2 separate regions of the Homo sapiens genome follow, and region 2 is linked to region 1. Evidence: fine-mapped expression QTL. Tissue or cell type: tibial nerve. Region 1 holds a variant in brackets; the other region holds the start of a gene. All regions are shown on one strand. Distances are from middle to middle.

What was found. PIP is the estimated chance that this variant, and not a neighbour inherited with it, causes the effect.
Region 2: APLNR starts here. The variant in region 1 is the best candidate, but not a certain one, in a credible set for the expression of APLNR in tibial nerve (GTEx, PIP 0.69).

Annotation. Positions count from the first base shown.
Region 1 is chr11:57,177,628-57,181,943 of GRCh38, reverse strand. The region is part of intron 4 of LOC105369309 (a long non-coding RNA gene); the gene reads left to right. Among named protein-coding and RNA genes, the nearest start is that of LRRC55, 2.2 kb to the left of the region's middle. The variant C/T (reference allele first, on the strand shown) is at 2,355.
Region 2 is chr11:57,234,794-57,238,793 of GRCh38, reverse strand. It overlaps APLNR (apelin receptor), which reads left to right and starts at 1,544. Exons shown (of 1, transcript NM_005161.6): 1 at 1,544-4,000. The coding sequence starts at 1,790. The coding sequence ends at 2,932. RefSeq lists an enhancer at 1,270-1,902.

The DNA.
Region 1 (4,316 bases):
AGGCAGCTACATCTGGGGCCAGCGTCTGTGAAGGTGGGGCTTCTGAGCATGTGGTATCATGGCTAGGGACTTTCCCAGGAGCCTCTGAGCACCAGAGGGCTTCCTGAGATCCACGGGAGGTCCCCTTCCGGAGCCTAGGGGGCAAGACACCCAGTTGAGGTCCCCTAGGGTCTGGAATGATGATCAAAACCTGAGAAAGGGAGGGGACAAGAATGGGGCTAGGTCAGCTGCCAGCAAGTCCTGGAAGAGTTCCTGCAGATCTTTTGTGTCTCTCTCACCCATGCCTGCTGGATGTTTCCTCTTGGTGCTGTGTCTGGGAGGGAGGGGCTGAAGGAGATGAAACGTGCCCTTTAAAGATCCTTGGCACTTCTTCTGAGAAAACTTAAGTCCTGTCCCACGTCTGGGACTGATTAGGAAGCCGGGGCTGCACCTGGGTCTTCAGTGTTGAAGGTCTCAGAGGCCATTTGTCCTGGTGGCCTGGTGGGCTGGAGTCCAAGGGGGTCCCAGGGTGGGTGTTTTGGGAAAAGGGCCCGGGAGGAAGTGAGTCTCCATGGGCCTCCTAAAAGCCTGAGAGTCCTCAGCCTCAGTGGCTGCTGGAATCCCCAGGAAGCCTCTTTTTTTCCCAAAGAGAGGAGGACCCCAGGTGATGCCCACTGTCTGGGCCTCTGGGGCCAGAAGAAGTCATGAGTCCTGAAGGTGCAGGCTGAGTGTCAGCTGGCAGAGCTCTGGCATCTTCTCCAAGCCAGTGCCTTCCTCAGCGCAGTTCTGTGTTCAGCAGGTGGAGGCCAAATTCCCTCTGTCAACAAGGAAAGCACTCAGGCAGAGAAATCCTGTGCCCTTGACACTCCCTTGTCCCTTCACCTAGGACGCTTGGCTTATCTTTGTCTCTTTCCTTTGCTCCCCCAACCACAAAGTTCTCTGCTTACTGTCTGTCAGGTGTGGGCCATGGTAGGTTCAGACCCCAGGCTCACATTGCTGTTACCCACGAGCCCTCCCTGACCCAACCTGCAGCCATCCTCCTCTGGGTTCCTGTCTTGGGTTAGATGCATTTTCTTCTTCTTCTCATAACCCCACCCTCATTAGTACCAAACACGCCACCCTTGAACAACTCCCTAAGAAAAATCTGCATCCACACTCTGGGGGTTTGCACACCCCTTTCAAACACTCTAAGCACTCCTCTCTCTCTCACACGCACACACACACACTCACTCACACACCATTCTGTGACTCCCCCGTATTTTGCCCTGCCCCGTGCTCACGCCTCGCGGTTTTCGCTCCAGCTTCCTTCTGCACAGGCGATTCTGCAGACCCCTCCCCAGTCGACCCCCAGCATCTTTCGCCCCCCTCTCAGCGCACACCCTTCATCCCAGCATCCCTTTCCACACACTGCACTCTCCTCGCCGCCCCCAGCAGAGGGACCGAGAGTGATGCCACGCCCAGAGCCTCAGCCCTCGCGCCCCGCGCCCTCTCGCTTCTCCCTTGCCCACCTGCTGTCCTCGGTCCTCCCCTCACCCTCGGCCTGGCGCTGCCTATTTTCCTACCGCTTCAAGCCTCAATCCCGCCCACCTGGAAATCACCCCAGCTCCCCTTCATGCAGACTCATTTTTCTAAGCCCCAGGTCTCCCCCTCGCACTCCCACAGGCCCCAGGAGCCTACTCACTCCGTTCCAAGGACACAGCCATCAATCTGCGGCAGACGCGGGTCTCCCTCCCTCCTCCTGGAATCCCCGCTTGCTCCTTGCTTGCTTCAGAACAGATTGCCTCCCAGGCTGTTCCCCTCCCCCGGCCTCTCCTCCTCCTTGTCTCCCGGATCCCAGGCCAGCATCTTCTATGATTTCCCGTCCTGCGGTCCCCCTGCCCCTTCTTTCACCCAAAGGGAAATCACAGAGACAGGATGCTCGGAAGAAAGTTCACAGAATCTGAATGCTTCTTTCTGAAACTCAGCTGGTGCCCAGGCTGCTGGGGTATAAGGCTTCCGCCAGAGCCAGGTCTTCCCCCTCCCTCCCCCCTTCCCACCCTCTCTCTCTCCCTCCCTCCATCCCTCCCCCAGTTCTCTCCCTTTTTCACTCCCCTTTTTTTTCCTCGAGGGCCAGGTACTGACGTTTCGCTGTCTCTTAGCAACTGCCTCCACATTTTTGAGCAACAGGAGAACTGGCTGTGGACCCCACCACAAAGAGAGAGGAGAGAAGGAAGCACAGGGCAAAATTCACAGCCGCCCACAGGATCCTGGGGATAGAGCGAGGAGAAGAGGGGGAGACAAGGGTGGGCAACTGGACAGGGGCAGAGAAAGAGGATCAGGCAGGGCCCAGTGGGAGAGGTCGTAGTAGGGGCAAGGTGTGGACCTGGAATCGGAGA[C/T]AGAGGAGGGATGGCTTAAGGGCATCAGATCCAGAAGAAAAAACTAAGAGGGCTTGCAATGAATGGAGAAAGGGACTTAGTGGGGGATGGGGCGAGTGAAGAATGGGGACATTGAAAACATGAATAGGAATGGAAACAAAAAAGGGATGTGAATATGATAAGTTTGCTCACTTGATGGGATATATCTTTGTAGTCACCATATAATATCTACTTACCTGGGTTGGAAGGTATTTTGGGCTCCAGCTACCAGGTGATTGGCTCAGGGCTTGTTAGGGACCATTATTGCAGGAAAGACCTTTTATATGTTCCCTGATTGTCCCTAAGTCCTGACCCCATGGGCTTTCTGGGGCTAGGAGGCTTGGCTGGAGTAGACCAATTTCCCCTTGGCTTGGGATATGAGAACTTTTGGGGTCCAAAAGGCCAACTACTTGGCCAGGTGGGGGCACCTGGGGCTCTACAGACACTTGGGTCTGTTAAGGGGAAAGGAAGCTTGTGATCCTTTCTTCTTTCTCCAGGCCTAAGGGATTCTGTCTGTTGTCTTGTTCCCATGCTTCCAAGCTTCCTTGGAGTGACTTCAGATGAGGATGAAATTTGTGCAATACCTGTTTTCTTGCTCACCCATTAAACAAGTCTCTAGCTGTCCTGCATTTTAAAAATTGTCTTGACCGGTTGGTTTGCTCAAAGAGCTGACTTATTTCTTTGCTTAATAAATATTTATTGAGCATTCACTGTATGCTGGGTACTTGGCCAGATGGTGGGCGACAAGATGGACATAGACTCCTCCCTCATGGAGCTGCTTCATTTGGTTGACCTGGGGCCTCTCGCATTTAAGTAAGAGCTTAGGTCTTTGGGGGATCCAAAATGGAGTAATAGAAAATAACAAGTGTGAAGTTATACAGATTCTGGGCATTTATAAAGTTCTTAAAATCATGGTTGTTGTCTTCTCTAACATGATTCTTTTTGCTATATGCTTGTAGAAAGTCAGTTCCCTTCTGTGTTCTCTCAGATGCTCATTTTGAATCTTTCATGTTCTACAGTCTCTGGCACAGAGTAACATGGCAGCCACTCCATAAATATTTGTATATTGAGTTGACTGAGGTAAATGAGATTTCACTCCCTGCTTAAAAAAAGGAATGTTTGTTTAATCTCACTTATGAGTTTAGAAGTAAAATATTAATCTTAACCCAGAAAACGCAACACAATGAAACAAGTAATCTATTCTAACTGAGGACTGTTGGCCTCCGGAAAGTAAAGCTAGCATCCTATGGAAAAATGGTAGAAAACATAATTATCTGAATGGAGGCTAAAAAAGCTATCCAGCATAGTTCAATATTTAGTGTTGACTAAAGGTAACTCATGAAGATTTTCTTTCTTTACATGATACGAAGTTTATATTTAAAATTAGAATTAATAATATAACTAAAGGAAAACATTAGTTACTGTGTTCCTTAAAAAATAGGATCTAGGTAAGATGCCTCATCACCGTTTGAAACTCAGTTTTCTGACCTTTGAAGTAGGGATAATGACGCCTAAGTCACAGGGTTGCTAGATATATGAGCCATTATAAATAAAGCACTTAGAACACTGTACAGATGGCTTTGTCAAATGAACAAATAAAACAAAGTAAAATAAACAAACAGCAGAATATAAAATCTCTAAAACAGTTATGGAGAAAGAAAAACAAATAAATTGCTCAAAAAGTAAGAAGTTAAGAAAGGAAAATATTACATTTGCAGATGATTTGAATGTATTCCTGTGCAAATGAGTTGCAAAACCTTCAGAAACCCCTAATTCAAGAACATTGTCATTGCATATATCTTCTGTAGAAGTGAGGTTCAATGAGACAGAAATATTTTACGTGACTTTATACCACCTTTAATCATTTTACAAATCATTATGGGTTTCTATGAATCCCAAATTGGCGTCCCAAGGTACACTGTGTGCCATGAGGTTCTTAAATAA
Region 2 (4,000 bases), 57 kb before region 1:
TGGCTTCCCCAACTCTTCAAGGTTGTGGAAAGGGTGCGTATTTTTTAAAAAAAATCTTACGTCGTGCATCTTCCTTCCTTCCTAGAGGTCCTGGAGAGGTGATGAGCTGGGGCAAAGTGAGCGTCTACGGAACTTTCCCCACAGTATCCTCCAGTGACTGAGTCTTTCTCTAGAGACCCCCCTCCTCTAGCTCAACTTCCTGACCCCCTGTGGTCTTACAGAAACCTCTTGGTCCATGGAGGATAGTAAAAACCTGAGAACTGAAATGTATCCATGTTCTCACCACGTAGTAATTCTTACACTTGTTCTTCCATCTATGGATTCCCCTTTTCACTCACCTCCTACATCATCCATCCACTTACTCACTCAACAGCCATTCACCTGGCTGGGCGTGGTGGCTCATGCCTGTAATTTCAGCACTTTGGGAGGCCGAGGTGGGTGGATCATCTGAGGTCAGGAGTTTGAGACTAGCCTGGTCAATCCCCATCTCTACTAAAAATACAAAAAAATTAGCCTGCAATCCCAGCTACTAGGGAGGCTGAGGCGGGAGAATCGCTTGAACCCAGGAGGCAGAAGTTGCAGTGAGCCTAGACCAGCCTGGGCAACAAGAGTGAAACTCTGTCTCAACAAACAAACAAACAAACAAAACAGCCATTCACCTACGACATGCCAGGTACTGTATTATGTTCGTGTTTGGAGAAGAAGAAAAGCAAACAATCAACTGTAGCATAATTCACTTTATTACCTTGGGCAAAACATTGACCTTGTTGGGCCTTTGTTTCCTACAGATTTAATGACTTGTTTAGAGATAATTTTGTCCTGGGTTTCTTCCATCCTGTGACTGCCCTCAACCTTCTAAAGCATCCTGTGCCTTCCGCAAACTGCAAACTGCAGTCTACACTAGTGTAGGGGTATTTCTCTAGAAACCACAAAAGTTCTCAGAGGGAGGGTCAAAGCCAAGGGGTAGAGAAAGATGAAGCGAGAGGCAAAGTGGGAGAAGACCCTCCTGTGACACCTGGTCTGGGTGGGGGCTGGGGGTGCAGGAAGGGAGCCGAGGGGGCCAGACCTGCCTGCCAGGAGGACCTGCCAGATGCCCTGCCCATCCTGCGAAATCTTACACCCTCCTTGCTCCCTACCAGCCCTGGCTCCAGCTCAAGCTGGATTGCAATCTGCATAATGTGTCCCATTTAGATTGGATGGAAGGGGGTGAGAACAGGAGGGCGGAGAGCACTGAGGAGGGAGTGCCCTAAAGGGCAGGCAGGAAGTGGTGGCCAGAGGAAAGTGGAGGGATAGGGGCTGGGGTGAAGGTGGGTGGCAGCCAGAAAGGAGAGGCGGGGCCAGGAAAGCCGACTTGCAAAACCACAGATAATGTTCAGCCCAGCACAGTAGGGGTCAATTTGGTCCACTTGCTCAGTGACAAAAAGAAAAAAAAAGTGGGCTGTCACTAAAGATTTTGACTCACAAGAGAGGGGCTGGTCTGGAGGTGGGAGGAGGGAGTGACGAGTCAAGGAGGAGACAGGGACGCAGGAGGGTGCAAGGAAGTGTCTTAACTGAGACGGGGGTAAGGCAAGAGAGGGTGGAGGAAATTCTGCAGGAGACAGGCTTCCTCCAGGGTCTGGAGAACCCAGAGGCAGCTCCTCCTGAGTGCTGGGAAGGACTCTGGGCATCTTCAGCCCTTCTTACTCTCTGAGGCTCAAGCCAGAAATTCAGGCTGCTTGCAGAGTGGGTGACAGAGCCACGGAGCTGGTGTCCCTGGGACCCTCTGCCCGTCTTCTCTCCACTCCCCAGCATGGAGGAAGGTGGTGATTTTGACAACTACTATGGGGCAGACAACCAGTCTGAGTGTGAGTACACAGACTGGAAATCCTCGGGGGCCCTCATCCCTGCCATCTACATGTTGGTCTTCCTCCTGGGCACCACGGGCAACGGTCTGGTGCTCTGGACCGTGTTTCGGAGCAGCCGGGAGAAGAGGCGCTCAGCTGATATCTTCATTGCTAGCCTGGCGGTGGCTGACCTGACCTTCGTGGTGACGCTGCCCCTGTGGGCTACCTACACGTACCGGGACTATGACTGGCCCTTTGGGACCTTCTTCTGCAAGCTCAGCAGCTACCTCATCTTCGTCAACATGTACGCCAGCGTCTTCTGCCTCACCGGCCTCAGCTTCGACCGCTACCTGGCCATCGTGAGGCCAGTGGCCAATGCTCGGCTGAGGCTGCGGGTCAGCGGGGCCGTGGCCACGGCAGTTCTTTGGGTGCTGGCCGCCCTCCTGGCCATGCCTGTCATGGTGTTACGCACCACCGGGGACTTGGAGAACACCACTAAGGTGCAGTGCTACATGGACTACTCCATGGTGGCCACTGTGAGCTCAGAGTGGGCCTGGGAGGTGGGCCTTGGGGTCTCGTCCACCACCGTGGGCTTTGTGGTGCCCTTCACCATCATGCTGACCTGTTACTTCTTCATCGCCCAAACCATCGCTGGCCACTTCCGCAAGGAACGCATCGAGGGCCTGCGGAAGCGGCGCCGGCTGCTCAGCATCATCGTGGTGCTGGTGGTGACCTTTGCCCTGTGCTGGATGCCCTACCACCTGGTGAAGACGCTGTACATGCTGGGCAGCCTGCTGCACTGGCCCTGTGACTTTGACCTCTTCCTCATGAACATCTTCCCCTACTGCACCTGCATCAGCTACGTCAACAGCTGCCTCAACCCCTTCCTCTATGCCTTTTTCGACCCCCGCTTCCGCCAGGCCTGCACCTCCATGCTCTGCTGTGGCCAGAGCAGGTGCGCAGGCACCTCCCACAGCAGCAGTGGGGAGAAGTCAGCCAGCTACTCTTCGGGGCACAGCCAGGGGCCCGGCCCCAACATGGGCAAGGGTGGAGAACAGATGCACGAGAAATCCATCCCCTACAGCCAGGAGACCCTTGTGGTTGACTAGGGCTGGGAGCAGAGAGAAGCCTGGCGCCCTCGGCCCTCCCCGGCCTTTGCCCTTGCTTTCTGAAAATCAGGTAGTGTGGCTACTCCTTGTCCTATGCACATCCTTTAACTGTCCCCTGATTCTGCCCCGCCCTGTCCTCCTCTACTGCTTTATTCTTTCTCAGAGGTTTGTGGTTTAGGGGAAAGAGACTGGGCTCTACAGACCTGACCCTGCACAAGCCATTTAATCTCACTCAGCCTCAGTTTCTCCATTGGTATGAAATGGGGGAAAGTCATATTGATCCTAAAATGTTGAAGCCTGAGTCTGGACGCAGTAAAAGCTTGTTTCCCTCTGCTGCTTTCTTAGATCTGCAATCGTCTTTCCTCCCTTCTTTCCTTGTAGTTTTTCCCCCACCACTCTCTGCAGCTGCCGCTCCTTATCCCTGCCTTCTGGCACCAATCCCCTCCTACAGCTCGTCCCCCTCCCTCCATCCATCCTTCTCCCCTGTCTACTTTCTTGTTCTGAAGGGCTACTAAGGGTTAAGGATCCCAAAGCTTGCAGAGACTGACCCTGTTTAAGCTTTCTATCCTGTTTTCTGAGTGTGAGGCAGGGAATGGGCTGGGGCCGGGGGTGGGCTGTGTGTCAGCAGATAATTAGTGCTCCAGCCCTTAGATCTGGGAGCTCCAGAGCTTGCCCTAAAATTGGATCACTTCCCTGTCATTTTGGGCATTGGGGCTAGTGTGATTCCTGCAGTTCCCCCATGGCACCATGACACTGACTAGATATGCTTTCTCCAAATTGTCCGCAGACCCTTTCATCCTTCCTCTATTTTCTATGAGAATTGGAAGGCAGCAGGGCTGATGAATGGATGTACTCCTTGGTTTCATTATGTGAGTGGGGAGTTGGGAAGGGCAACTAGAGAGAGAGGATGGAGGGGTGTCTGCATTTAGTCCAGACACTGCTTGGCTCGCTCCCCGAGTCCTCCTGTTTCTGACTTCCTGCATAACTGTGAGCTGAAGGGTTTCCTCATCTCCCCATCTTACCCCATCATACTGATTTCTTTCTTGGGCACTGGTGCTACTTGGTGCC